Homo sapiens: one gene and its partners. The protein of the gene in region 6 purifies or fractionates together with the protein of the main gene of each other region. This does not show direct contact. Each region holds a gene or a part of one and is shown on either strand. Other genes may lie near its edges. The genes, in order: VSIG4, DLK1, UBTD2, GNAZ, ERICH5, PCDHGC3 and GNAQ.

Region 1 (4,415 bases), on a different chromosome or scaffold from region 6:
TTGTTGCTGCAACTGGCTTGTTTTCATGAGACTCTAAGATATCGTGTCCTAGGAATCCAGTATTTGTGGTCCTCAGAGTGTCTTGTTGGGACTGAGAGAGCTCAAGTTATAAGCTGGTACAAATCGAAGAAATATTCTCTTTTGAAGAGAGTCAAGTACTAAAAAACTTGGTAGAGAAAATAGGGCGCAGACCCAACATCTAATAACTTTGCCCAAGGTTATTTTCTCATTTTTCCAAACCAACTCCCTATGAGGCAATTTCTAACTTCTCTTCTCCCAGTAGATGTTCTTCTCGGAGAGGAACGGAGCTATGGAAATCTTGAAGCCAAAGATGGCAATGCAAATGTGGAACATAAAACAGGTTTGAGTGCTGCCAAGGGATAGCCAAAAAACTCTGCAATCAGGAATGGAGAGTTACAAAGAGCATTTGGAAGTCCACTCTCTCAATTATACACAGGCAGAGAATGAGTACCAGGAGTGATAGTTATCAAACTATTTAATTCCAACCAGTCACAACAGATGCCTACTGTAGACTTGGAGTCTTAGAGATTCCTTGGTATACCTTTTGTTGCATGACCATGGGGGTGGTCTAGAGAGTTCTGAGGAATGGGACAAGGCAGCCCCAGGTAATAATGGAGGGCTCAGGGGTTAAGGGGAGCAGCTAATTATCAATTGGTGTGAGAGTGTTCTATTATTTCAACAGTCAATGTAGTCATGTGAAGGCATACCAACTGACTATCAGATGCAGGTGAAACACAAAAGATTTATTTGGGATTTGAATCTCTGAGACCCTGACTTGGGAATTTTCAAGGCTTTGGAGGAATCAGAAATCAGCTTCAAGCGGCTTGAAGAGCCCTGGTTAAGAGCTCAAGCAATGACACTCAGCCATTATCCTTACCTGGTTGAGGTCATGATGTCATAATGTCCCTATCCATATTCTTGCTCAGAATGTTTGGAAAGCATATTACTATGACAACAGAGAACTAAATAAAGGGCACATTTATCACTCCCCTTAACCTCACTCTGACTTTGCTCATCTCTGGATCTGTATCTCTCTCTCTACATCCTACCCACTTTACCCATCCTCAGTGCCCTTGACCATTGCTTGGCACATAGCAGGTAATGATTTGCAGATTTCAATGCTGTAGAACAGTGTGCATAAGGGAAAGTTTTGGTCACAAAGCTTAGAGTCAAGAAGAAAAGATAGAAATCCTGACAATATTCCTACCTGGCCCAGCACTGGTCTCTCCAAGGTAGCCATCCATGTCAGTGGTCCAGTCCCAGGACTGCTTCACTGTAGATGTTGCTATGAATATAGAGAATAGGGTCAGAGATGTCTCTCTTCTTTCAAAAAGTTGAGAGATAGGAGATGGTTGCAAAGGTTGGAGTCCTTCCCTGGCCATTTGTGCTGTACTTTCCAGGGTACCTGACCATGTTATCAACCACTAGTACCATGAGATAAGGCATCTTCATTTCTTACTGTTAGGTGTGGGCAGTGAGAAGAATTCCCATCGAGGGGAGGTAATGTACCCAAAGTCACACAGCAAGTCAAACTAGGAGCAGAATAGAATTTAGTGTTCTTGTTTTTTGTATTTCCAATGGGAGTAATTCTAACCCTCTCTTTCCTTTTGCCTCAGAAGTTTTCACAAAAAAAGAGTATATATTCATCATTGTTACCTTTCTTTTGTTTCCATTCCTTTACTGCTATGTTCTCTCTGAGGAACCAAGTGACTGTTTATTAGCCATTCCATGGCATTGTGATTCCTTTCTTGGCTACGATGACACCATTTTGAACCTCTACTACTTCCTCAGACTCTAGCAAAACTCACCTTTCAAGGGGTATGTCATGGTTGTAGGTGCCTCAGTCTTGGTCTTGAGTAGCTTTGAGGAGTCTGCAAGGAAAAGGGAACCGATTGAAGGGACCTGGTACCCTTTGGTGAATAGTTTAATGCCCTAGGGAAATAGGAAGTAAGTAAAGGCCATTCAGGTCCATACTTGGACCTGCCTCAACACTTCTGTCATGATGCTGGTAAGTCCTGTGTTGCTTGTTCATCTTTCATACATCAATCAAGGACAGAGTTTTTAACCCAGGATTAATAGATCTCGAAGGAACCTGTAGCTAGAGTTCAGAGAGTCAGTCAACTTGGATGGGAAAATATATTTTATTTTTACTAACTTCTAACTGAGACCTAGTAATTAATTCTCTTGAGAGAAACTTGGGAAGTATCATAAAGAAAGTGGCAATGGGTGACATCAGTGAAAATGGTGACATAATAACCTCCAGAAATTTACCCTTTAACAACATCAGTGAAATAATGCAAAATTTGACGTAATCAACTTTTTTTTTTTTTTTTTTTTTTTTTTAGAATTTTGCAAAATAGCCAAAGGTTTGCAGCACCTTAGACAGGATTTATGGAAGAAAAATATCCCAGTTTTGGTAAGAACAGCAAGCTTTGTGCTGTTTTAACTTCTCCTAGTCCCCTTACCCCTTCTACCTCAGAGGTAATCTTGAACATACAACCCCATTCCAGGTGCTGGAGTGAGCCCAACAAACTTCATTTTTGAATAATTGCCATTATTTGGCCTGTCTGGTGGTTCCCTGAAAGACCTGACTCAAAAGACTTGTTTTATTGGTCACCCAGTGCTAAGAGCCTCTCCCCAGGGATGGGGTAGCATTTGTCACACAGCTGCCTGAGGCAATGGATAATAGGCGAGAAAACAAAAAAAACTAACCAAAATAGCCTTAAAAATGGTTGAGGAATAAGATTTCCATAGGGATTTTGAAGAGTTCTGACACAGTTCTGGGAAACTAGGAGGCCACACACAAGCACAGGGCCATGTACCTGCTCAGAAAAGACATGAGAAAACCATAAGCTTCTCCCTCTTGCTAGCAGAGGAAACAGCATGCTCCGTTTTAGATGTGGCGAAACATATTAGTAGATAAGTCTGGATAGGTAGGCTGAAAACAGACTAAAAGGGTTTGGGCTTTGTTCTTTAGTTGGAAAGATCCATGGGGTGTAACAGAAGGTTACACCTTTTGAGAAAGGTTTACTTCCTTTTGAGAAAGGAAGCAAAAATTGTTCAGTCTATTTTTTTTGGAAATAATTCTGACAACAGTGTGGTAGGATTTTCAAAGGTAAGGCAATAGCATATTTTCCCCATTCATTAACAAATACAGTATTCATCTAGTGTCTAGTGTCTTCTTTGTGCCAGATACTTTGCTGGGCTCTGAAAAACAGCAATGAAGTAGACAGGTAGAATTCTGCACTCTTGAATTTTATAATCTAGTGACATAAAATATATACTCAATAAATATTGAATAAGTTGATGACTTCGTAAGAATGTATGAACATGGGGAGAACATTTAGAAGATGATTGAAATTGTTTTTTAAAAAAGAATATGAGACCATGAGGGTATAGGAAGAGAAAGAAAGAGCCTAATAAGGTATCTGATTCAGTAGGTGAATTCACAGCACTTGGTAATATTGATGATTATTTGACGATGCGAGGTAAAAGAGAAGGAGGAGTCAAAGGTACTGCTATGTTTTCTAACAGGTTTGAGGAACAGGTTTGGTGAGTAAAAGGTACGATCAGTTTTGAACACGCTGAAATTAGAAATGAAGCTGTCCAGAAGGTAACTAGACACTGGGATCTAGCAGTCAGGAAAAAATAAATACAGATAATATTATGGTTGGAGAGTCATCAGACTACAGGTGATATTTGAAGCCACAGAAGTAAATAAAATCTCCTGATAATATAGAAATACATGCAGAGATGAATAAGAATTGAGTCTTTGAGAACATTTACAATTAAGGAGTGAATGAAAAAAGAGCCAACAAAGGTGTCTCAGAAGGATCATTCAGGAAGGTCTTAGAAGAACCAAGATAAGTTGGTGTCATCAATAGCAGTGATTAAAAGAATATTGAGGTGGAAGAAATGGCCAACAGGATCCACTGCTACACAGATGTTGAGGAGGAAAAGTATGAATGGAGAGGTCTTGGGATTTGGTGATATGGAGGTTAATGATGACCCCAAATTACAAAGTTATGTTGTGGTGAATGAATTGAGAGGTTCAGCTGGTGGAAGCTACCTTCGTGAGAAGGTTGGTAGTGAACATAGGAGAGATGAGGTGGCAGATGGAGAGAAAGATTTTTGAAAAATAACATATATATATGTATGTATTAGGCTTGCATACTGACATATATACATATATTATACATGCATATCTATTTGGCTTAGGTAGAGGATAAAGGGTATTGCAGGGCATTGGAGTAGCTGATGTTAAGAGTTCAGGAGGAGGGGCTTGTTGTGGAGAGGAGCAAAGCATACCTTACTCTGAGCCAAGAGGAAATGGATAGGGAAATATCAAGGCAGAGAGGAGGGTAGTTGATAAAATTCACATATGAAGAGGGTCT
Region 2 (4,415 bases), on a different chromosome or scaffold from region 6:
GTCCCTTTCCTCTGAAGAAACAGAAGCTAACATGCAAATAAGCTTATCTTGACCGGACATCGCAGGGTGGCACAGAGACCCCAGTAGTCTGTAAGAGCTGTAAACAGACATTAACGGGGCTTCCAAAGATCAGTCTTCAGACGGGGTCAGAGTGGGGGCTGGTGAAGACTGAACTCCATTTCTGCTTATTAGCAGGAAGGAGAAAAACAGAGCGAGACCTTTAAAATATTTTGCTTTTCTCGCGAATGGACTTAAACCAGTGTGTCAAAATAGAGCCTAAGGCCCTTGAAATTCCTTCAGAGCCCAGCTCCCATGCAGCCCACACCCTGAAGCAGCAGTGCTGATTTCTTGTGTTTACTGCCCCTTCTTCCCCGGAGTTTTGCCATTTATCGGATGACAAAGGGCTCGCTCGTTTAAAAGCACTTACATTAAATGCTCCTTGTACTCCACTTTGAGCAAACAGCTTTGGTTTGCAAGCTGCACTTGGGTGAATGGACCACTATTAAACAGCCTGGTACAGACGCTGGCTTGTGCCACCGTAGACAGACCTCGTATTGCTTTCTCTTTGAGAGTCCCCAAGCGCTTCCTGCACAATAGCCTGTGGATCCACACCGCTAATAATAATAATAATAATAATGAGGGTTGGCGGCAACAGTGGACATAGGCATGAAGGACGACAGCGGGTCCCGGGATAGAGTGAGGGGCGCCCCTTGCTTGGTTCTTCTGCCCCAGCAGTCCAGGGATGGAGCTAAGGGAAGGGGGCTTGCTCCAGTCCTGGGCTGTCACTGACTTTTCCTCTCCTAGCCTCAGTTTCCCCAGTTGGCTAGTGACTAACCGGTTGGAGACTAACCTCTGGTTGGAGAGGTGCAGTAAGAGGTGGGAGAGGACGTGGGCATCCTGGCATGGGAGGTCGGGTGTGTCCCAGGTTAGCATCGAGATGGGGGTGAGGTGGGCACCCACCCACCCACCCCCAGAGCTACTGGTGAGCTTCTCGCAGACAGGGGTCACGGCCCCGGGCACCTCTCTGTGCCTCCCTGGCTGGCGTTCCCTCCCTCGCTCCCTCATTCACCTGATGTGTTTTAAGCACCTGCCCCTTAGTCAGGCCAGGGACCTTCTGCCCTGAGCCCCGTGCCCTGCAGCGCTGTTGTAGCCTAGCCCCTGAGGCCGTTTACTATGTCCCTGTTGTGTTGCAGCTCCCCCTGCCAGCACGGAGGCACCTGCGTGGATGATGAGGGCCGGGCCTCCCATGCCTCCTGCCTGTGCCCCCCTGGCTTCTCAGGCAATTTCTGCGAGATCGTGGCCAACAGCTGCACCCCCAACCCATGCGAGAACGACGGCGTCTGCACTGACATTGGGGGCGACTTCCGCTGCCGGTGCCCAGCCGGCTTCATCGACAAGACCTGCAGCCGCCCGGTGACCAACTGCGCCAGCAGCCCGTGCCAGAACGGGGGCACCTGCCTGCAGCACACCCAGGTGAGCTACGAGTGTCTGTGCAAGCCCGAGTTCACAGGTCTCACCTGTGTCAAGAAGCGCGCGCTGAGCCCCCAGCAGGTCACCCGTCTGCCCAGCGGCTATGGGCTGGCCTACCGCCTGACCCCTGGGGTGCACGAGCTGCCGGTGCAGCAGCCGGAGCACCGCATCCTGAAGGTGTCCATGAAAGAGCTCAACAAGAAAACCCCTCTCCTCACCGAGGGCCAGGCCATCTGCTTCACCATCCTGGGCGTGCTCACCAGCCTGGTGGTGCTGGGCACTGTGGGTATCGTCTTCCTCAACAAGTGCGAGACCTGGGTGTCCAACCTGCGCTACAACCACATGCTGCGGAAGAAGAAGAACCTGCTGCTTCAGTACAACAGCGGGGAGGACCTGGCCGTCAACATCATCTTCCCCGAGAAGATCGACATGACCACCTTCAGCAAGGAGGCCGGCGACGAGGAGATCTAAGCAGCGTTCCCACAGCCCCCTCTAGATTCTTGGAGTTCCGCAGAGCTTACTATACGCGGTCTGTCCTAATCTTTGTGGTGTTCGCTATCTCTTGTGTCAAATCTGGTGAACGCTACGCTTACATATATTGTCTTTGTGCTGCTGTGTGACAAACGCAATGCAAAAACAATCCTCTTTCTCTCTCTTAATGCATGATACAGAATAATAATAAGAATTTCATCTTTAAATGAGTAAGAGAAATAAGTATGTTATTCTAAAATCTAAACTCAAATGAAATTTCAAAAAAGACCAAAAAAAAACAAGGCAACAGAACCAGGGCTCAGTGCCGACGCCCCTACCCTGGGGGTCTCGGCCACATGGTCCTCGTGAAACCGTTACGAGTGCTGTACATGACCACCCACTGTGCAAAGAGCTACGATTGCTTTCGTTCGTTAATTCTCACACACCACATCCGACTCGCACTCACATCCAGCTCAACATCGCTACCTTTAGATCTTTCCGATTGATTTGAGATTTAGCGGAGTGCAGCGGCTGTGTGTCAGTCAGAGAGAGCCCCAGGTTGGCTGCTGGGGGGCCGGGCCTCTGTGCCAGCCCTGCCACTAACTCGCTGTGTGATCCTTGGCGAGTCCCTATCCCAATCCTGGGCCCACTTTCTCGCCCCTCTCGAGGGAGGGGTTTGAACACCGACCACCATGGTCCTCTCTGGCTCTAAAACTCTGAATTAGGAACGAGGGGGTATGAACCAAAACACTTCCTGACCCCAACAATTGGGATCTGATGAAGACGAATTCTCATCCTGGGATCCGAAAGGTTTTGGCCTATCCTGGATGAACGCTTGATGTTGAAATTTATCCTAACTGTGTTTCTCAAAGTGGGGAGCCTCCTGGCCCACTTCCCTTTTGGGAAAAAATAGCCCCTTTGAGTCATAATGTGCCATCTGGAGTTGCCACTTAGGCAGCCAGCCCTCCCCCACCCCTCTTTGCCCACCCAGAACCCCAACACTATACCTGCCTCTACCCTATAGAGACATCCCTTGAGACTTGAATGTACTTTGAGCCGCAAGTGCCCCTGGCAGAATCTGAGCAGCAACACAGCCCTCACCAAGGTTTTCACAGGGATTAGTGGAAATTGTCACTTGTGGGGCGCTTACTAGTTTTGTGGCAAATGTGGTCCAAGACCTGGCCCACACAGCCATGGGTTTACATTTGTGTTGCTGAGTTAATAATCCTCAGATCTCAAAAGACCTAGCCAGCTTCTGAATTTTGAATTTGACTTTTTTTTTTTTTTTAACAAAGAGCATCTATCTTTTTTGCAAAAATAGAAAGAAATGGGACAGAGCTCTGTTTAGCTTTTCAGCTTTTGGGGTTGGACAGCTAAACAGCCCTTGGGTACCAGATAGGAATATTTTGCTTCTTAGATTATTTGGATAAGAATCTATACTCTTAGCTTTATTGAGCATTGCCTGCCGTGTTTACCTTGCTCCAGGTGTTTATTTCTAAGTCATCATCACCTTCGTCATCTACAGTCAGTCACATCAGTCACCCACACACAACTCACAGTCACCCATCCATTGGTCACCTGCGCCATCGTCATGACACAATATCGACCTCATCACCTCATCGTCCTCCAGCCACTACCCAAGCCCCCTCATCCTGACTCAAAGCCCGACCAGCATCTGCCCAAACTCCCAACACCCCACTCTCCCCACCAAGCCATTGGTCTCCTCACTCCCGGTCCTTTGTCATCCTGATTCCAAGCCCCGCCCCACCCTCACCGCCTCCTCCGCATCATCTGCACTCTGCAGAGCCCCTCCTACCCGCCTCTGTCCCCACCAGGCCCCTCCCTACCGTCAGCCCTGAGTCCCACAGCACGCGTCCCCAGCCCCTCCCAGCCTCACCCCAAAAACCCTGTCACCCCACCGACCACCATCATCACTGGCAAGCCCCTTCCCCTTCTCCAGCTCCCGTCCCCACTACCCCTCCCGTCCCCCAATCCTTCCCCTCCTGTTAGCCCACCCCTCCTTTCCTATCACCCCCACCTTTCCCTTCCCATTCTCCCCACCCTTCCCCTCCGATCCCACCACCCTTCCCTTCCGATCCCCGTCATCCTTCCCCTCTGATCCCCCACCCTTCCCCTCCTGTCCTCCCCAGCCCTCCCTTCCTATCACCCTCACCCTTCCCCTCCCGTTCTCCCCACCCTTCCCCTCCTGTCTCCACCAGCCCTCCCTTCCTATCACCCCCACCCTTCTCCTCCCTTCCCTCACCCCAAACCCCTGGGTCCTCCACCCCAATCTCTGACAACCGCCCCAAGTCCCTCTTCCTTCCCCACGAAGTCATTCATAAGTCACCATCTCATCTCATTTTGAGTTTGTTTTAAGAAATAAAAAAATTAAAAAGACAAAAAAAAGAATTGTTGGCATGTGTCAGGCGGGCGTCTGGTACCCTGCCTGGCCTCTCTCAGCGTGAGACCTGGAC
Region 3 (4,415 bases), about 31 Mb from region 6:
GCTATCATGTCTAATGGATTAAAGCTTCTGTCCATAAAATGCAGCACTAATAACTGATTCCTAAATAAATTTAAATTGGAGATGAAAACATCCTCAAATAATGCCCACTGCAAGATTCTTTTTAAAAATGCCTTCTGGCTGGGCATGGTGGCTCACACCTGTAATCCCAGCACTTTGGGAAGCCAAGGCGGGTGGATCACCTGAGGTTAGGAGTTCAAAACCAGCCTGGCCAACGTGGTGAAACCTCATCTCTACTAAAAATACAAAAATTAGCCAGGTGTGGTGGCACACGCCTGTAATCCCGGCTATTTCAGAGGCTGAGGCAGGAGAATCGCTTGAACCTGGGAGGCAGAGGTTGCAGTGAGCCGAGATTGTACCACTGCGCTCCAGCCTGGGCGACAGAGTGAGACTCCGTCTCAAAAAAAAAAAAAAAAAAAAAAAAAAAAAGGCTTTCCAACATAAATTCCAATCCTTTATTGATAGAAAATTGAAAATGGAGTGGGACTAGCCCAACGGAAGGTAGATGATCAGGAAGCAGCTACAATGGCCTATGTCAATTTTTAATGTAAACTCTAGTGCTAAAACTTTTCCCAAAGAGGATTCAGCTCTCCTCATGTCTAATATTTTCCGACTGTAGCTTCCTTGACCTATATATTAGGTTCTCATACCTGCCAACCCAGAGTACCACTGTATTTTCAACCTATATCTTCTTGCTGCCCATTTTCTTTTTGGTCCCCTCCCTACAACTCCACTCCTCCTAGTAAAATTTGCTGCCTTCTGCTTTGTATCATGTAAATGTCCTAAAAGTCTCTTGCCAAAGTGGTATGAAATTTTAGGCACCTCTCTCATAAAGCCCCAGAGCTCACCGACCCAGAAAATATGAAGGATTTTCACCTCCACTGTCACACTAGGGATACAAGGAGACTAAATCTTCAGTCCTCCTCATGCTCAATTTTGCTTTACTTTTTTTTTTTTTTTTTTTTTTTGAGACGGAGCCTCGCTGTGTCGCCAGGCTTGGAGTGCAGTGGCACAATCTCGGCTCACTGCAACCTCCACCTCCCGGGTTCAAGCGATTCTCCTGCCTCAGCCTCCCAAGTAGCTAGGACTACAGGCACGTGCCACCATGCCCAGCTAATTTTTGTATTTTTAGCAGAGACAGGCTTTCACCATGTTGGCCAGGATGGTCTTGATCTCCTGACCTCATGATCCGCCCGCCTCAGCCTCCCAAAGTGCTGGGATTACAGGTGTGAGCCACTGCACCTGGCTGTTTTACTCTTTACTATTGGCACAAACCAAAGAATAGAAGCATAAGAAAATTCAATAAACCAGTTAGATGATGTGTAGAACATAATGGACACTGAAAATACATAAGAAAGAAGTACACTGGACATTCTTGGTGAAGAAAGTCTTACAGAGAATGTGTTTGTCCTGAACCACACCAACCTCAAAAGGGCTACTGGTATATTCTGGAATTGTATACCTAAGAAGTCTACCTTGTTTTAGGATATGAGTAACAAACTACAGCTAGAATTTTTGCAAACACTATGTATTAGTCCGTTCTCATGCTACTATAAAGAACTGCCTGAGGCCAGGCGCGGTGGCTCATGCCTGTAATCCCAGCACTTTGGGTGGCCGAGGTGGGCGGATCATGAGGTCAGGAGATTGAGACCATCCTAACACGGTGAAACCCCAACTCTACTAAAAATACAAAAAATTAGCCAGGCATGGTGGCGGGCGCCTGTAGTCCCAGCTACTTGGGAGGATGAGGCAGGAGAATGGCATGAACCCAGCAGGTGGAGTTTGCCGTGAGCCAAGATTGCGCCACTGCACTCCAGCCTGTGCAACAGAGCGAGACTCCGTCTCAAAAACAAAGAACTGCCTGAGACTAGGTAATTTATAAAGGAAAGAAGTCTAATTGACTCACAGTTCCGCAGGGCTGGGGAGGCCTCAGGAAACTTACAATCACGGTGGAAGGGGCAACAAACACGTCCTTGTTCACATGGCAGGAGGAAGAAGTGCCGAGCAAAAGCGGGGAAAGCCCCTGATAAAACCACAAATCTTGTGAGAACTCACTCACTATCACAAGAACAGCATGGAGGTAACCGCCCCCATGATTCAATTACCTCCCACTGGGTATCTCCCATGACACGTGGAGATTATGAAAACTACAATTCAGGATGAGATTTGGGTGGGAACACAGCCAAACGGTATCACACCACAGCTAGAACCAAGTTACTGAACCAAATTATTTTCTGAAATTACAAGAATGATCCGTTCTAAATACAACCAGATTAGTTTCACAAGCAGAGACCTGCTTCCCTCTTTCCCAATTCAACAAAATTCAGTATACTAAGTACCTACTTACTATGTGTCAGGCCTGATTAGAGGTGATTTTCTTATTGCTTCACCCTTTATGAAACTCTCATGACTCAATTCTTAGTATTTTCCTCCTCTTTCACTTACTTATTAGCAGTCACTCACTTTTACACCTTCAGTCAACTCACCCCAGCTGATCCCAAAATCCACAATCATAGCCCTAAGCATCTAGGAGTTCCCTATCTAAATTTCCGTACCACACTACATGGTGACTCCACTTAGACATTCTTCTGTCACCTACACCTTAACATATACTGAATGCTAAACCAGGGCTTTTCCCAGATATCTTTCTTATTCCACAAAACCTGCCAAGCTACCTCAATATTCCTGGTCACTCGGGTTCATAAACATGGTATTATTTTACTTCTCCTTTTCTCTTCTGTACCCCTACATCCAATAAATCACCAACTCATTCCATTTTTTTCCCTCATGGGTTCCTCATCCTAGTCTCTTCCCACTTTAGGCAATCCTATACCAATGCTTCTCAAACATTAATGTACATAGGAAATCACTTGAGAATCTTGTGAAAATGCAGATTCTGTAGGTCTAAGGCTCTGAATTTCTAACATGCTCCCAAGGTGATGCCGATATTGCTGCTCCAGAGACAAAACTTTCTGAGCAGCAAAATACTAGACTGTAAATTCCTTTGAGGGCAGAGATTTTTTTTTCCCTGTTGTAATCCCAGTAACTAGTACATAATAGTGGTTCAACTAATATTTAGTGAATGATATTTAGCAGTCAGTACATTCTTTTCATCAGATAAGCTCTTCTCTTCAAGAGTCCACACTAACATCCTACGCAATACCTGTCCAGTTTCTCCATCATTTTCTCTCACACACACTGCTCAAGCCAAAGCAGCCACTTTACCAACGATTACCCCATGCATGTATTGTTTACAACCACTTCCAAGCTTTACTTCATAACCATTCTTCTATCTGGTATGTTTTTAAAAACATCATACAGGCCAAACAAAGCATGTTTGTTGACTGGATGTGACTCATGTACTATCAGTTTACAAACTGAGCTGGAGAATCAACTGGGGTGAAGATCAGTCCCCCACGCCTTCTGACCCCGTAATGTGGGCCAGTTGCATTATGTTCCTTAGGACAGATGGTTTCATTTGTAAGGTTCATTATTGGGGTGCAGAGACAAAGAAAGGGAGGGAGGGAAAGACGGAAGAAAGGGAAAGGGGGAGAGAAGGGAGGGAGGGAAGGAAGAAGACAAAAAAAGGAAACAAAATGGCCAGGCACAGTGGCTCACAACTGTAATTCCAGCACTTTGGGAGTCTGAGGCAGGGGATCACTTGAGGTCAGGATTTCGACACCAGTCTGGCCAACACAGTGAAACCCCGTCTCTACTAAACATACAAAAATTAGCCGGTGTGGAGGTGCACACGTGTAATCCCAGCTATTCGGGAGGCTGAGGCAGGAGAATTGCTTCAACCTGGGAGGCGGAGATTGCAGTCAGCCGAGATCATGCCACTGTACTCCACCCTGGGTGACAAAGCAGACTCTGTCTCAAAAAAAAAAAAAAAAAAAAAAAAAAAAAAGAAGGGAACAAAAAGAAGACGAAGTACATTTATGAATTACTTTTGTCAACTTTTTTTCTTTTTTAGCTACCCTGTTAACTGAATTGTCAACTTCTATAAACCATTTCACTGCTAATAACCTTTCATCAGATCAGACAGAGGAAATAAAAGTTTTCCACTTCTTGTTGAGAAAGCAAATGTTAGCTGTGAGATTTGCAAATTATTGGCTATAGATCTATTCTGTATACATCAGTGAAAGGTTACTTTATATTTAAAACTGAAACTAGAAGCACAAGCAACAGAAGAAAAAAATAGATAAATCGGACATCATTAAAATTACAAACTTTAGGTGATGCACGGTGGCTCACGTCTGTAATCCCAGCATTTTGGGAGGTCAAGGAGGGAGGATCACTTAAGCCCGGGAGTTTGAGACCAGCCTCAACAACACAGAAAGACCCCGTCTCTACAAAAATTTAAAAATTAGCTGGCTGTGGTGGTGCACACCTGTGGT
Region 4 (3,500 bases), on a different chromosome or scaffold from region 6:
GGCTTTGGCTGTCATGTTTGCTTTCTGAACTTGTCAGTGAGGAGATGACCCAGGTGTCTTCACAGATGGGCCCAAGGCTAGGCCTTTGCCTGCCTGCAGCCCTCTTGGCTCTTACTGGCCTGTGCCTGCCACCTTGCTGCCTCTCTCTCCTCTCCTTCTGCTCTAGCCGTGGTCAGCTTGTTTTGCTCCAGCAGTACTGCTCTGTCCAGCCTTAAGCTTGTAATGATCCTGATCCCTGCCTCTCGTACCCCTGCCCTTATCCTCCAGGTCTCATCCCAAGTGGCGCCTCCTGGGAGGCCTTTTCTGACCTAGCCCGGCACCTGCTTACTCCTCCATCTAGTGATGTGTGAGTGAGCTCCTCGGGGCAGGCCCTAGATGGGCTGGGTGGCCCCTGTGGGGCCTCACATCTCTAGCTTTCCCTCTCCCAGGCCTGTCCCTGGGGAGAGCCATGGTGGGCAGCCATGGGCAGGGACAGCAGCCACTGGCCTGGTCTCAGGGATCCCTGTGAGGTTCCAGGCATTCAAGGCACTTTCTAAAGGGAGGGGCTGGCAGCCAGGCTGGCACACCCACCACCATCACCCTGGTTTCTGCAGGCCTGGGGAAGTGGTTGTTCACCAGAAAAGGAAATTCTTGATGAGAAACCCAAGCGAGGCTGGAAATTCACTGGATTCCAAATGATTCTGACCTTTCATGCTCTACCAGTAATATCTGGAGATGGAAAACAAACAGGCTGCAGAGGAAAGACAATCCCCTCCCGCGATTCCTCCCGCAGGCTGGGCTGGCCCCGGAGGTGAGCTGGCCCCCAGAGTGGTGCCGGCAGTGAGGACAGCCCGTCTCCAGCCGGGCCAGGGCCAGAGCCAGTGCTGGCACGGGCTGGCACAGGGCTGCCACTCTGCTCTCTCCTTTTGGAACGTGCTGAACTGTCCTCCCTGGGCCCTGTCAAAGGCAAGGCAGCCAAGAACAGGCCATGCTCGTTTTCACAAAAGCCGAATGAACCTTGGGGCCCAGTGCCAGGGCTCTGGACACGGCTCCTCCATAGCCCTCCTTCCGTGCTCAGCTTCCAAGGCCTCATCTTCCCTGATGCTGGCAGTGCCTCCCCACCCCCACGCCTGGCGAAGGAGCCACAGCCCCCCGGCCCACCCGCTGGCTTCTGCGTCAGCACGTTGCCAAGGAGAACGTCAGTGTCTCTGGGCTCCCGGGTGTGAGGGCTGCAGTGAGTGCAGGGCAGCACCTCAGAGCAGGGAAGGCAGATTTCCGGGTGTCTGTGGAGCATGGCAGCGAGCCACATGGGGAGCCACGCCCCTCCATGGCCACGGTTCCCACCCTCGTCCGAAGGAATTGGCAGTCCCTTGCCCTGACTAGGGCCAAGTCCTGCAGGTGTGTCAGGCACCCCAGTGCCCCCAAGCCCAACACCCAGCTGGGGCTTCCTCAGGCAGCACAGGAGGCCTGAACACAGCCCAGCAACACAAGGGGGTTTTTCTGGCGCACCTGTCCCCTGAATGATCCTGTGGGGCAGCAGCGCCTGTTATTTTTGTCACAGATCGAGGCACTGAGGCTCAGGCACACAGCTGGCGCTGGCGGGCCCCCAGCCCTCAAGTCCACAAGGACAGCTCCTGAGAGGCCATGTGTCACAGGACCCACCACGGGCCTCCCACTTAGCCAGAGCCATGGCAGAGGCTCTGCCCCTCGTCTTTAGTACATTCACACAAGGGTCAGTCAGCAAAGACAGTCACTCTGCTGCCCTAGGAGGGAAAGGCAAAGTGGAGAAGCTGGCACCTACCAGCCCACACTGAGGGACAGACACAGGTGGCTGTGACCAGCAGAGCCTGGGTCTTCACTCGGCCCCACTGGAGGCACCTGAGGGGGTAGGTGGGCACTTGTTGCCCAACCTCTGCCCTTGCGGATCAGCTAATGGACTCTGCTGGCCACCAAATGGTGTGGGATCCTTCAGAAGGCAAGATTAAAAGGTCTAGTTGTAAAGCATCAAATGTTCTCATGTGGAAACCCACAGGGAGCTCACTGCCCATTTCCCGACGGAGCTGTCAGCATTCCCAGCCCTGTGGCGGGTCTGTTTTGCACCTGTGATGGACCTGCTGTGCAGGCTCAAGGCTCAGGCTGGGGCCAAGTATGAGGGTGAGCACAACTCTCCCAGCAGCACAGGGAACTGGGGGACAAGGAGGAGGCAGTCACACCAGCCCAGCTACAGCTTCATTTCCACAAAGCCTCTGCTACCAGGGATACCTGCCCTGTCTTTCTAGAGCTGGCAGGCAGCAGTTCCCAGCAGTGTCCCCATTGTGCTTTCATCTAGGACCCACAGTAGTCACTTGGGCCCCACAGGCAGGCTGGGTCACAGCAGGGTTCACCGTGGGAGGCCTGGTGTCTCTGCCACTTATCTGAGAGACAGCTGGTCAACATGTTATCAGTGAGGGTATCCAGGGGACGGGGGACATAAGAACATGCCTTTTGTGGGGCAAGTTCTGCAGGTGGCAAGTGCTTGAGCAGCCAGCCTCCAGGCAGGTGGTCTATGCCTGGCCCTGGATAGTGGTCCCTTGTCCTGGGGCCATTGGCTTCCTGAGGAACCCCTCCCCACTCCAGGGCAGGTCAGCAGCCTCAGCACACCACGAGGGCAGGTCCACACCCACCCGGCACAGCCTGTGCTCTGAGCAGAGGGCCTGGCACACAGTGGGTGCTCTGCAGACTTTGTGGAGCGGGCGGGAGGCGGTAGGCTTGGGAAGAGCTGGAGCTCCAGAGCCCTGGCTTCTGGGTGCAGAGCAGCTGGGACACTCAGCCCTTCCCAAGGAGACCCTATGGGTGCTCGTCCATAACAGGAGTGTATGCAGTACCCTGAGGAGGGGCTGCCCAAGGCCGTCCTGTGAACACAGCGTGTTCCTGCCACCCTAGCGCTGTGGTTTATCATTTAGCCCAAAAAGGGTGCTTGTTTTAGTGCTTTTAAAATGGAGTTTAAACATTTGTGCCATAAAATGGCGTGTTGTGGGTGAAACAAGGTGTTTCCAGTAAGACAGGCTTATACCTATTGATGACAGAGCTGGTTATATTTGCCCAAGGAGGGAATTACAAATGGGCAATAGCCAGACACAGATGATACCCTCTCCCCAGCATACCAGGGCTTAGATTGAGAAGGGACCTTATATATCCTTTAGTGTTCCTAACCAGCCGGCTTTGCAGATGAGGAAACTGAGCCTCAGAGAGGTTCCTTCACATACCGCAGGGCTGAGACTCTGGCTCTCAGGGAGGGTCCTGGCACTGGCCCCTGGGAATTCCAGTGGCCCCCCTCTTCACCATACTGGTCCCACATCCTGTGGGTGCTGGGGTTCTCCAGCAAGGGCCTTGGGGGTATAGACTGGGTTCCACCCTTGGAGCTGCTGTGTAGCCAGCCTTCCCTCAGGAGAGTGGAGGACAGTGACACCTGGGCTTGGGAGAGGTGAGTGGCTGTGAAGGTTGACACTCCCCTCGTCCCCTTGTCTCCTGGCCTAGTCAGT
Region 5 (3,686 bases), on a different chromosome or scaffold from region 6:
CATATTGCCAATCTTAAACATATTGCTTATCTTAAACTATCCAACTCACTTTTGCATCTTTTAAACTATCACGCCTCATGCAACTCTGAGATCAATATGAAGGAGAGAAGAGAGATTCACTGCTGTTTTAGAGACAAGATCATTGGGAGCTAAGTTTCCAAGCTCATACAGTTGGAACAATGGCCAGAAGTAAAATGCATGTTTCTCTGCTTTCTGTTGATTTCTTTTCCCACTGTGCCCCCCAAATGACATGAAACTCAGGCTGAACTGTCTCTGCTACTTCCCTTCCCAGACATCTTAGCCTTTACCTATTAGGGCTTCTCTGCCACAGTCCTTTTTCCATTTGCTGGGGGCTTTCCTGTGTTAGAAGGAAAGTAAGACCTCTCTAGCAGCCCAAGGACCTCGCATCATGAAACCTTCTAAGTTTGGGAATCTTCTATTGCCCTCCCCGCCAAAACAAAAATGGAAAAAAAATTTTTTAAAAAGGAAACCTTCTAAGTCTCAAGAGGAGAAAGTGTGAGACAAGGAAAAGAAGAGAGAAACAGAGTAAGCTCAGTTAGAATCTGGGACAGGAGCCATGAAAAGATGCACAAGGAGCAAACAGGAGAAAACTGTGGTTTTGGAGGACTTCAGCGCTTAAGATTAAATGTTTGAGCTGAAGACAATAAAGGGATTTGACTGGGAGAGTGTTAGGGTCATGGTATGGCCTTTCTGTACTCAGATATATTTGGAACTGTCTTGAACTGTTAAATCTACTTTGTGATGTCAATTCACTTTTCAAGATAAAACTAAACAATAATTTGTGTTTTCTCTTTTCTTTTTCTTTTTCAAATGAATAACCAAAGTAACTTCAAATGAGCATTTTTCAACTGCAGAAGAAAGTGAGTCCTGCTTTGCCCAACCAAAGCCACATGCACTGGGAAGAGAATCTACTGTTGATGGCAATGTACAAAGGGAAAGCCGTCCTCCCTTACAAAAGCTCAAGGTTTCAGCAGAGCCTACAGCTAATGGTGTTAAACCCCTCCAAGAACAGCCCCTGGCCAAGGACGTAGCCCCTGGAAGGGATGCCACAGACCAATCAGGGTCCACAGAAAAGACTCAGCCTGGAGAGGGACTGGAGGAATCTGGGCCGCCTCAACCAGGTGGCAAAGAGGATGCCCCAGCAGCAGAAGGAAAGAAGAAAGATGCAGGAGCAGGGACAGAGGCCGAGTCTCTAAAAGGAAATGCTGAAGCTCAGCCTTTAGGACCAGAAGCCAAGGGTCAGCCTTTGCAGGCAGCAGTAGAGAAGGACTCTCTCAGAGCAGTGGAGGTCACTGAGAATCCACAAACTGCTGCAGAGATGAAGCCTCTAGGAACAACTGAGAACGTTCTGACTCTGCAAATAGCTGGAGAGCTACAACCTCAGGGCACAGTGGGAAAGGATGAGCAGGCCCCGCTTCTAGAAACAATTTCCAAAGAGAATGAATCTCCAGAAATATTGGAAGGAAGTCAGTTTGTGGAAACAGCTGAAGAGCAGCAACTTCAGGCAACATTGGGAAAAGAGGAGCAGCCCCAGCTTCTAGAAAGAATTCCCAAAGAGAATGTAACACCAGAAGTATTGGACAGAAGTCAGCTTGTGGAAAAGCCTGTTATGAATGATCCATTCCATAAAACTCCTGAAGGTCCAGGAAACATGGAGCAGATTCAACCTGAAGGAATAGTTGGAAGCATGGAGCATCCAGCACGAAATGTAGAGGCAGGAGCATATGTGGAAATGATCAGGAACATCCATACTAATGAAGAGGACCAACGCATTGAAGGTAAAAGTTATGCTGGCAAACCTGGATGTTTAGATGTGCTCCATAGGAGACCAGCTCTGGGGAGTGGGATGGGGTGACTGACACACAGTCCCTGAAGTCACTTTCAGGTGGTTGAAGTTCGTTTGACCAAACCAAAAAGGCTTCTGTGCCTGGGAAAGAGGCATTCTATTAATGCTCAGTTTGTCAGCAAAACTTTTCCGAAACATCATCTCTGTCCAAAATTTTAACCTAGTGTTTAAATAGTGTCTAACATTGAAGGCAACATGTGAAACTTTCTGAATTTTTCCAAGTTGACACTTCATCAGGCCCCATGTATGAAATCAGGATCCAAAGTAAAGGTGAATAGATGATTACTGGAGGAATTCACCTTCCAATGAAATGATATATACATAATGGATCTTAGAATGTTATTTTCATCTTTGTGAAGCTTATCTTAGAAAATGACTGTCAGGACAGGGTGCAGTGGCTCACACCTGTAATCCCAGCACTTCAGGAGGCAGAGGTGGGAGGATAGCTTGAGCCCAGCAGTTCATGACCTGCCTGGGCAACATAGTGAGACCTTGTTCTCCAGAAAAAAAAAAAAAAAGAAAGAAAAAAGGAAAAAGAAAATGACTGTCAGTCTGCTCTTGTTCTTCTGCAGTTTTAAAATCTGTATGAGAAGACCAGAGAAAATGTACTATGTCTTAGCATATGGTGTTTTAAAATTTTAACTGTATTTTACCAGCATAAAACAAATGATGTTTACAGTGTTCTTTATTGGTGTTATAATTTAAAAAAATATTTTCTTCTGGGGTATGATTTACATTTTGGTAAATTTTAGCTTCACAGTTCAGTATACTTAAGTGAAGCATTCATTATAATCATCCATCTGTTTTTGTTTAATTCTTTCATTTATTTATTTTATTTAATTAATTTATTTATTTTTTGAGATGGAGTCTTGCTCTGTTGCCCAGGCTGGAGTGCAGTGAAGTGATCTCGGCTCACTGCAACCTCCACCTTCTGCGTTCAAGCGATTCTCCCGCCTCAGCCTCCTGAGTAGCTGGGACTACAGGCGCACACCACCATGCCCGGCTAGTTTTTGTATTTTTAGTAGAGACGGGGTTTCACCACATTGGCCAGGCTGGTCTCCAGCTCCTGACCTCATGATCCACCCGCCTCGGCCTCCCAAAGTGCCGGGATTACAGGCATGAGCCACCATGTCTGGCCAATTCTTTCATTTATTAACTCAGCATTTTTTGGCATGCCTAAACATATGCTAGGTGCTGAGATGCAGACTGAGGAAGAGATAGTCTCTGTCCTCAAGGGGCTCACTGTCTAGTGTGGGAAGGCAGGATGTGCGTGCATCACCATAGTCTGTTGTGGGAACTGCTTTCCTAAGAATGTGTAAGAAGGGCCCTGGGAACAACTTGGGAGAGGCAAATAAAAGCAGGTAGTTTTTACATCAGGATTGGCAAACTCAAAAGTCTTTAGGCCTAGGATACTGAAAATGAGTGAGGTGAAGGACACATGTCATACTGTGGGAGCCCAGGGGACCTTGGCAAACAGGAGAGCACAGCCTTGTCAAAAGAGGAAGCTCCGCACAGCTCCAGCCATGGAACTAGGGCCAATGTTGCCAAAGCCAACTTCTCAGGGAAACAGGGTTTCCTGCAAGTGTGTGCAATGTCCAGACTTGTTAGTGTTGGCTGTCTGTAAATGTTTAACGATTGTTTTTAAACACATAATGGCCAAGCCAGACAGGTTTAGGGGCACCCCTGGACCACCCTTTGATTTAGATACAAATTAGACTTTCTTTTTCTTTCTTTTTCTTTTTCTTTCTTTCTTTCTTTCTTTCTTTCTTTCTTTCTTTCTTTCTTTCTTTCTTTCTTTCTTTCCTTTCTTTCTTTCTTT
Region 6 (4,415 bases):
TGCTCATTATAGAAACATGAAAAATAGAAAAAAAATTAAAAGGAAAACCACCCATCATTTTACAATCTAGGGAGAACCACCACCAACTACAGTTTAATATGAAACATTTCAAATATGTACAAAAGTAGAGAGAATGGTGTCATGAACCTGTATGATACCACTATCCAGCTTCAACTAATGCCTTATCTTGTTTCACCTATATCCCTACCCTTATCCTGTCCTTGGATTCTTTTGAAGCAAATCTCAGACATCATATAATTTCATCTTGGTCTCCACCATCTTTAACAGATGACTTTTTTTTTTTTTTTTTTTTTTGGAGACAGAGTCTCACTCTCTTGCCCAGGCTGTGGCACAATCTCAGCTCACTGCAGCCTTCGCCTCCCGGGTTCAAGCAATTCTCATGCTTCAGCCTCCTAAGTAGCTAGGATTACAGGTGTGCACCACCACACACAGCTAATATTTTGTATTTTCAGTACAAACAGGGTTTCGCCATGTTGGCCAGGCTGGTCTTGAACTCCTGGCCTCAAGTGATCCACCCTCCTCGGCCTCCCAAAATGTTGGGATTACAGGTGTGAGCCACCTTGCCCGGCCAGATGATTCTTTCATAAGGTCCACATTTTATATTTGAGTGAGTGTCTCTTAAGTATCTTAATGCTCTTTTAATGTAAAAGACTTCCCCTCCATCTTCCATTTTTGCAATTTATTTGTTGAATCCCTGCCTTTTCATATATATCTTTCTAAACTTTTCTTTGTGTAATCAAAGAACATGCATGAGCTTCATTTTTATTTTTATTTATTTATTTATTTATTTATTTATTTATTTATTTATTGATACGTAGCCTTGCTCTGTCACCCAGGCTGGACTGCAGTGGCGCAATCTCGGCTCACTGCAAGCTCCGCCTCCCAGGTTCACGCCATGCTCCTGCCTCAGCCTCCAGAATAGCTGGGACTACAGGCGCCCACTACCACGCCCGGCTAATTATTTTGTATTTTTAGTAGAGACGGGGTTTCACCGTGTTAGCCAGGATGGTCTCGATCTCCTGACCTCGTGATCCGCCCGCCTCGGCCTCCCAAAGTGCTGGGATTACAGGCGTGAGCCACCGCGCCTGGCCGAGCTTCATTTTAAAAAAATCTCATTCACCTAAATAAGTTGTTCACAAACTTGTCACACTTTCATGTGACACTTTATTCACATATTAAGAACTGTTATTCCCAGTCATACGGTACATTTCCTACTAGTTTTTTAAAAATAGCAACTGAGGCCATACTGTCCAACAGAATTATAGCTTTTTTCTTCTTTGCAGTGTATCATGAGAATTTCCCCATGTCTTTCAAAATTCTTCCCAAGTCATTTGCAGAGTAACTCCTCTTATGAATATACATATTATTTTACAGAATAAGTCCTCATATGAATATACATATTATTTTTCTAATGCTAATGGGCTTTTGCTACATTAGAAAACATACACATTCATTTACAATTTTTTTTTTTTGAGACAGTCTCGCTCTGTCTCCAGGCTGGGGTGCAGTGGCGCCATCTCGGCTCACTGCAAGCTCCACCTCCTGGGTTCAAGCAATTCTCCTGCCTCAGCCTCCTGAGTAGCTGGGACTACAGGCACGCGCCACCACGCCCAGCTAATTTTTGTATTTTTAGTAGAGACGGGGTTTCACCATGTTGACCAGGATGGTCTCAATCTCTTGACCTCGTGATCCGCCTGCCTCAGCCTCCCTAAGTGCTGGGATTACAGGTGGGAGCCACCATCCCCAGCCTCATTTACATTTTAACACAATTAAATTCAGGGTGTTGTCAGGGTGACTTCCTAGATTTCTCAGTTTTTTGAGCATGATGTAGGGAGTATTTTATTATAGTCCAGTCTATGGGATATTCCCTTATACACACACACACACACACACACACACACACACACACACACACACCCCAAACTCAATAGGGCAAGAACCATATTCATCATCTCTTAAATCCTAGGTCCTGTCACAGGCCACTGCTTGGAAAATAGTTGACTAAATGTAGTCCATTTCTTCCATTTTTACTTTTCACTATTCCCCAAATCCTGGAAGAGTCCCTCATATCTGCTGCTGGGGCTCCAAGGCCTCCAAGCTGAAGCCCAGTACGTTGTTGTGCATAAGATCATAGGCCCTGGAATCATATTAGGCTGGCTTTCAGGTTGCAACTCTACCAGTTCCAGCTGTGTGACTCTGGTATAGTCTCTCAACCTCTCTGAGCCCTGTTTTCATCTGTTGGAAAATATAGATAATCACAACACTTATCTGCAGGGTGATTCCGAGGATAAAAAAGACAAATATATTACCCAGTCAGCTTAGAATAGGAAGCTCTCAGTAAATGGTTAAAAAAGAGGTCTCTCTCCCTCTGCTCATCTCTTACCCAGCTTCACATAATTGGCAGCCCACCCACCTGTTTGGCCCTCAACCTTCAACCATTTCCCAGGACGCCTCCTTACACTCCTGATCATCATGGTTCCAACCCCACTGTTCCACTCAGCTTTGTTCCCTCAACACCACTGCTCCCTGTGACAGGTCATCCTCCTAACCTCTGGCATCTGGTCCCGTTGTCTCCCTGACAACCCGCATGCTCTCCTCCCTGCAACCCCCGCCGCTTGCCTGCTCTCCCTACTTTATTCCCATTAGCCCCCTTCACCTGGGGCTGAGAACACCTGGCCTTGACCCTGCACCCTCAGCCAGGCCCACAGAGCTCAGTCGGGCCGGAAGTAAGGACCCCAGATATTCAGTTGAGGAATTTAACATTAATACAATAATATAGAATCCACCAGCAGATTTTCATAAATGTTCTGTGTGTTCTTTTATCCTTTTTTTTAATCCAGGATTTTATCAAGGAGCATAGATTGCATTTGGTTGTCACGTCTTTCCTCTCCTTTAATCTGGAGCCAGCTCCCAGTCTTTTTATTTTTTTAATGACATGGATATTTTTAAAGAGTCCAGGCCAGTTGTACTTTAAAATGTCCCCGAACCTGGATTTGCTGGCTATTCTCTGATGGTTAGATTCAGATTACACACCTTGGTAGGAATACTTCCCGCAGCATCACACTGGGACTCATCTAACGTCGGCCTGTCCCACTATCAGTGATGCCGAGTTTGTTCGTGTGGTAAAAACAGTGTCCCAGATCTCTCCATTATAAAAATATATTTTTATAAAGATATTTTAAAATATTTGTGAAAATATAAGTAATCTGTGGATGATACTTTGAGATAGGCAGCAACCCTTCATGCAATTTTAGTATTCCCTGATGATCCTTGCCTGTATCTGTTTTTACATCAGTGATTACAAAGCGGTGATGTTCTGTCATTCCTTCTACATGTATTTGCTGGTATTCTTCTGAAAATTACCTGGATGATTTCTTCAGATTTAAATTCACTGTCTTTTCCTTGGGGAAGCCTGGACTGGCTGAGCTGCCTAACCCTGACTCTCTGTCTTTTTTTTTTTTTTGACAGGGAGTCTAGCTCTGTTGCCAGGCTGGAGTGCAGTGGCAACCTTCACCTCCTGGGTTCAAGCGATTCTCCTGCCTCAGCCTCCCAAGTAGCTGGGATTACAGGCGTGTGCCACCATGCCCGGTTAATTTTTTTTTTTTAATATCTATTTTAGTTGAGACAGGGTTTCACCATGTTGGTCAGAATGGTCTCGATCTCCTGACCTCGTGGTCTGCCCGCCCCTGCCTCTCTTCATACCCTCTGGTAGCCCCTGACACAGCCCATGGCAAGTATCACAATTGCAATTACTCTATTGTGTAATTATTTAAAATCAGCCTCTCAGTGCCCACCATGAGCACCGTAAAGATGGACAGTTTCTATCATACTCACAGCCACAACCCCAGCACCTGGCTCTGTGTCTGGTACATAGAAATTGCTCAAGAAAGAATTGTTGGAGGGGCGCGGTGGCTCACGCCTGTAATTCCAGCACTTTGGGAAGCGGAGGCAGGTGGATCATGAGGTCAGGAGTTCGAAACCAACCTGGCCAATATGGTGAAACCCCATCTCTACTAAAAATACAAAAATTCGCTGGGCATGGTGGCATGTGTGCACTTGTCGTCCCAGCTGCTCAAGAGGCTGAGGCAGGAGAATCACTTGAACCTGGGAGGCAGAGGTTGCAGTGAGCCGAGATCGCGCCACTGTACTCCAGCCTGGGTGACAGAGCGAGACTCCAGCTCAAAAAAAAAAAAAAAAGAAAAAAGAAAAGAAATAATTATTGAATCAATGGAAACAGAATTACAACTCTTCCCACTTTTGGGAAGGAGAATTGAGATTCCTGCTTTCCCCTTCAACCCTAGCTTTATGTTTGTTGTGATGGTATAGAGGTCACACATGGCAGCCTTGTGTCTGTTCTTAGGCTGAGTTCATCTACTTAGGGACGGGGAATCCCA
Region 7 (4,415 bases), on a different chromosome or scaffold from region 6:
CAGCTGAGTAACTTCAAAATGGCTTCATTTTAAAACCTACCAGAAGAGACGGATCCAAAGGAAATGCATATTTTAGACTAATTGTTTAAAGATAGTTCAAAATCAAATGAGCAATACAGGAACTCTAAATGACTGGTAAAGGATCTCTGGCTGGTCTACTACTACCAATTGGTGTAAGAAGAGCTTAGAGGTAGAGGAGAGTTATTTCAACTCCTTCATGAAAGGGCAGGATTTTCATTCTACTTCCACCCTCTTTGCTGCCTTATAGCTCCTCTTGCTTTTTCTTTAAGTTTGTCTCTAACATCTAGAAGACACTATGAGGGAAGGGAAAGAAAGCTGGTCTGGAAGGGCAGGGGACCTGGCCTTCAGTGACCTTGGCCACAGGCCTTCATCTCTTCATTCCTGTAACCTCATCGTTATGACGCACACCAGCAAACCTGATCTGTCCCCGCCACGGTGAGGTCAGCTGGTAGATTCTGATGAGTAGCAGCTTCAGCAAGTTTTGGGTATAAAGTGCTAAGGTATTATAAACGTCTATGCTTTCCTTTTATCAATTGAGCAACTTCAAAAATCAGGTTTGAAGGATGAATACATGTTTATGGAAACCAAGGTCAGGGAATCCACCTTGATCAAGGAGGGCCTAGGGTAGGGAGAACTATCTTGACGTTTTAATAAAATGATAACATAATTCCTCATGACCATTTCAAGATGATTAATAAATTCAAAGCTCACATTCAAAGAGGACATGGAGGAGAAAAAGGTCTCAGTCTTTGAGATTCTATAAAGAGCTTAGCCTGGAAGACAGTCATTGAGACAATGTCTGAGAAAACATCTTTGTAGTAGTGCTCAGATATTCATGAAACAGAAAATCAGAAAAATAAAGATTAAAAGGCAGTGTTTGGATACACACTGATAAACTAAAATATGTTATAAGCATGTCTTATTGTGTGCTTTGGGCTTTCAGGAGCACTGAAATAACATACCCATGAAAGGATTACAGCAGAATAGTGGATTCCATGCTGGTGTGTTATCACAGGGAAAATAAGACAGCAAAGGGAATACACACATCAATAAGACAGTAAAGGGAATACGCAAATCAACACAGCTCTACCACCCTGGGTATTCTAGCCACTATTTGATAATGTATTTCCTTCTTTGAAGGAAAAAAGAAATTCATTCCCCAAACAATAGAAAGGCTGAGAATCTAGGCAGACAAAAGCAGACCTACATAAAATTATGAAGATTTATAAGGTTTTAGAAATATTAAAAAGCAAAAGCAATAATCTAAAATGCTTCCCTTAGCTGCTTTTGTCTGTGGTCTGCAATGCATTTTCCACAGTTTCCTGGGATAGAAAGAAAAGCTGTCAGAATCCATTCCTAGGTTTTTCTCACAAATATATACCAAGGGAGGGAGGCACAACAAAGTCTGCTTTGGATTAAAGTTATGAACATCAGACTTCTAAACCAAGAACAAAATGTTTCTGGAGTTTATTTCAGTTTTGTCTCACCAAAACCAAAAAATCTGGGGAAACTAGAATTCTGTAGTTCTGAATTTTCTTAATGATTAAGGAAGCTGAGAGGCAATGACATTATCATACATTAGTACAACTGGGGAAAAAAAGGGGTAATGAGACTACATCCCAACATTAAAAAATATTTTTTTGACAGTACTTCCTAATTACAGACAGTGATAGCTGTGGCTAATATGGATGAAGGAATTAATGAACAGCACTTTTCTCATGATCCCATACTATCATCAGGCTTGACTAGAGGTCTCAGAAAGGAACACCGTACAAGTTGACTTTCATCTTATAGAATTACCTAGACTTTCAAAAGATTCACAAGTGATTAGGGAGTCCTAATGAAAAAATGATAGCTTTATTATTTTAATTTGTAATTATTTAAAAGTAGCATAAGACATCACCACAGGAATCAAAGGAACTGGGACAATATTTTTAGACGTTCTTAGTACCTGTACATTGAATGTCAAGTTACTGTGGGAACTTTAATTATGACACATGATAATAAAAACGATGCCATTTTATTCTAATTAACATAATATACTTTTATATAAAAATCTAGTCACTATTAGCTATGTCTGAGGAAAAATGGAATAAATGATCTGTAATGTTCAGATAACTGAAGAACCAGATTCAATTCGGTTGAACTGAATTAGCTGATGAGTTGCCAAAGGATTCTACTTTCTTTTCTATTTTGATAATTTTGAAGTGGTAAATTGATAAGTATTACATCATGACATATACTTCTTCATATATATATAATGCATTTATCTTGTGGAAAATGTGTATTGATAAACACTTGTCCTCCTCTAGCTATAATGTAAACATCAGAAATAAATTCACATTTGCTTCTTACATCTCTTGTGTAATTGATAAATGCAAATTTTATTTTACTGGATGGCAAATTAAAGAAGAGAAATGACAACCTACATAACAAAGGCTTACCTTTCCCCCTATGGCTTATTCTGACCAAAAGCATATCTTGTTTATAAGGTCTTCTAGGGCAGAGTTGATTTTTTTCCCCATTTTTGTGTCTTTTTAGATACTCTGGTACCCAGCATATAGTAGGGAAGCCCTCAAAATATTTTTTTGTCTTGACACAACATTCAAAAAAATCAGAAGTGTTAGAATAGATCTGCTCCCAAAATATGCAGTATGTTTAAAATACTACATCCAGGGATTATGTAACAAACAAGCACAGACATAAAGATATACAGATAAAGATATCATAGCTAAAATTCTGACAGTAACTGCCTTGTATCTTGGTAACTTACTGTCATATATTGTAGCATGCTTTTAGGCACTTTGCTTTAGAGTTATTGGGGGCAACTGATTGATAAACAAGCCTCATTCTTAAACAGAAGTTATTTGGTTAACTCCAAAGCCAATATACTTGTAACTCAGGAATGATTCCGAAATGCATGAACAGGTGACTCTCGGTTCTATATAGACATTGGTTCACGGAAACTTTATCAATCCTATACATAAAAGAAATACTATAGGAGCTTGGATATGTATTTTAATGGAGATATTAATACTGGCAGAAAAATATTTAAAAGAACCAGTCAGGAATTCTTGTGTACCTAAAAAATGTACTGTATTAAAAGCATAATATGCTAGATCCTATTTTAGTCAGCAAACGGGGATCTCTCACTTCCTTCTTTTTTGCTACCCTATTATTGGGATATTTAATATTTATTATTAACCTACCACACTGCAATCTCTGCCTCTAACAGGATATCAATGGTGTCTTCCCCGTTCCCCCAACACACACATACACATGCACACAACTACAGCTCAGAAGTACAGATTTCTACATCCCTTAATATATTCCATAATCGATTCATCGTCAGGTCTTTACCATCCTGAAAATCCACATTTACACCTATTAAGTTTCCCTGTAACAGGGAGGAGATAACAATACTGAAATTGTTCTCCAGACAGGCATATTAAGGATACTTCTTCAACTGCTCACTGCTTAATAGAGACAAAATTATGCAACAGCCTAGAGAATTCTATAAGAGCAGAAAGGCCGCATCACCAAGATATTCCATGGTTCATAATGAACTGATTTAGAGCCCAGCTGCGAAGTCATTCACATTTGCCAAGAGAGATTTTGAGTACTCTTTGGGACACACCCATCACACAAACAATGATTTAAACAAAATGAAAACAAAACAAAACAGGATGACTCACTCCAACACTCCCAGTTCTATCCTGTAGGAGGAAGACTATAAAATGATCTGATGATTAGCCTAGGATTTCCATGTTATTTTCATTTTCAGAACCTCTGCATAGTGTTAAAAAGTATCAAATAGGCTCTAATTAGATTTGAACACAAAGACCTGCTCACACATCTGACAGAAGAGCTTACCACAGGATTATTTTTGGTTATTTTAAAAGTCCTAAAATCAAATTTCAAGAAAGCAAAGAAGTAAGTTCACTCCATTCCCCACACCCTACTTTCTATCATTTACTTGTATCAGATAATAAAATGATAATCCATTGCCTGTCTAAAGAACACTTACCTCATTGTCTGACTCCACGAGAACTTGATCATATTCACTAAGCGCTACTAGAAACATGATAGAGGTGACATTTTCAAAGCAGTGTATCCATTTTCTTCTCTCTGACCTTTGGCCCCCTACATCGACCATTCTGCAAGGTTAACAATACTCATATTAATAACATATAAAGTAAAACTAAAAAGTCAACATAAATATAGCACTACTTACAAACTTAGGGAAAATATTCTCTTGAATGACGATGATCATCCAAGTCAATTCAATTAATACTTATTGAATAATTACTAATTTCTTATTACCTAATATTCAAAGTTAAAACATTCTGGGTAACACATCATGATGGTTTTAAGAAAGTTACCAGTGTGTACGA

The links.
Region 1: the proteins of PCDHGC3 (region 6) and VSIG4 purify together in Homo sapiens (co-immunoprecipitation; one large-scale study listed by IntAct). This does not show direct contact.
Region 2: the proteins of PCDHGC3 (region 6) and DLK1 purify together in Homo sapiens (co-immunoprecipitation; one large-scale study listed by IntAct). This does not show direct contact.
Region 3: the proteins of PCDHGC3 (region 6) and UBTD2 purify together in Homo sapiens (affinity purification with mass spectrometry; one large-scale study listed by BioGRID and IntAct). This does not show direct contact.
Region 4: the proteins of PCDHGC3 (region 6) and GNAZ purify together in Homo sapiens (affinity purification with mass spectrometry; 2 studies listed by BioGRID and IntAct, with this or other methods). This does not show direct contact.
Region 5: the proteins of PCDHGC3 (region 6) and ERICH5 purify together in Homo sapiens (affinity purification with mass spectrometry; one large-scale study listed by BioGRID and IntAct). This does not show direct contact.
Region 7: the proteins of PCDHGC3 (region 6) and GNAQ purify together in Homo sapiens (affinity purification with mass spectrometry; one large-scale study listed by BioGRID and IntAct). This does not show direct contact.

What each region holds. Positions count from the first base shown.
Region 1 is NC_000023.11:66,026,221-66,030,635, forward strand, and holds part of VSIG4 (V-set and immunoglobulin domain-containing protein 4 isoform 1 precursor), read right to left. Parts: intron 1,893-4,415; coding exon 1,830-1,892; intron 1,307-1,829; coding exon 1,229-1,306; intron 1-1,228. UniProt on the Homo sapiens protein: Phagocytic receptor, strong negative regulator of T-cell proliferation and IL2 production. Potent inhibitor of the alternative complement pathway convertases.
Region 2 is NC_000014.9:100,732,956-100,737,370, forward strand, and holds part of DLK1 (protein delta homolog 1 isoform 1 preproprotein), read left to right. Parts: intron 1-1,193; coding exon 1,194-1,941; 3' UTR 1,942-4,415. UniProt on the Homo sapiens protein: May have a role in neuroendocrine differentiation.
Region 3 is NC_000005.10:172,273,173-172,277,587, forward strand, and holds part of UBTD2 (ubiquitin domain-containing protein 2), read right to left. Parts: intron 1-4,415.
Region 4 is NC_000022.11:23,098,019-23,101,518, forward strand, and holds part of GNAZ (guanine nucleotide-binding protein G(z) subunit alpha), read left to right. Parts: intron 1-593; coding exon of another isoform or gene 594-794; exon of another isoform or gene 795-3,500. UniProt on the Homo sapiens protein: Guanine nucleotide-binding proteins (G proteins) are involved as modulators or transducers in various transmembrane signaling systems.
Region 5 is NC_000008.11:98,088,231-98,091,916, forward strand, and holds part of ERICH5 (glutamate-rich protein 5), read left to right. Parts: intron 1-845; coding exon 846-1,799; intron 1,800-3,686.
Region 6 is NC_000005.10:141,499,397-141,503,811, forward strand, and holds part of PCDHGC3 (protocadherin gamma-C3 isoform 1 precursor), read left to right. Parts: intron 1-4,415. UniProt on the Homo sapiens protein: Potential calcium-dependent cell-adhesion protein. May be involved in the establishment and maintenance of specific neuronal connections in the brain.
Region 7 is NC_000009.12:77,790,415-77,794,829, forward strand, and holds part of GNAQ (guanine nucleotide-binding protein G(q) subunit alpha), read right to left. Parts: intron 4,179-4,415; coding exon 4,049-4,178; intron 1-4,048.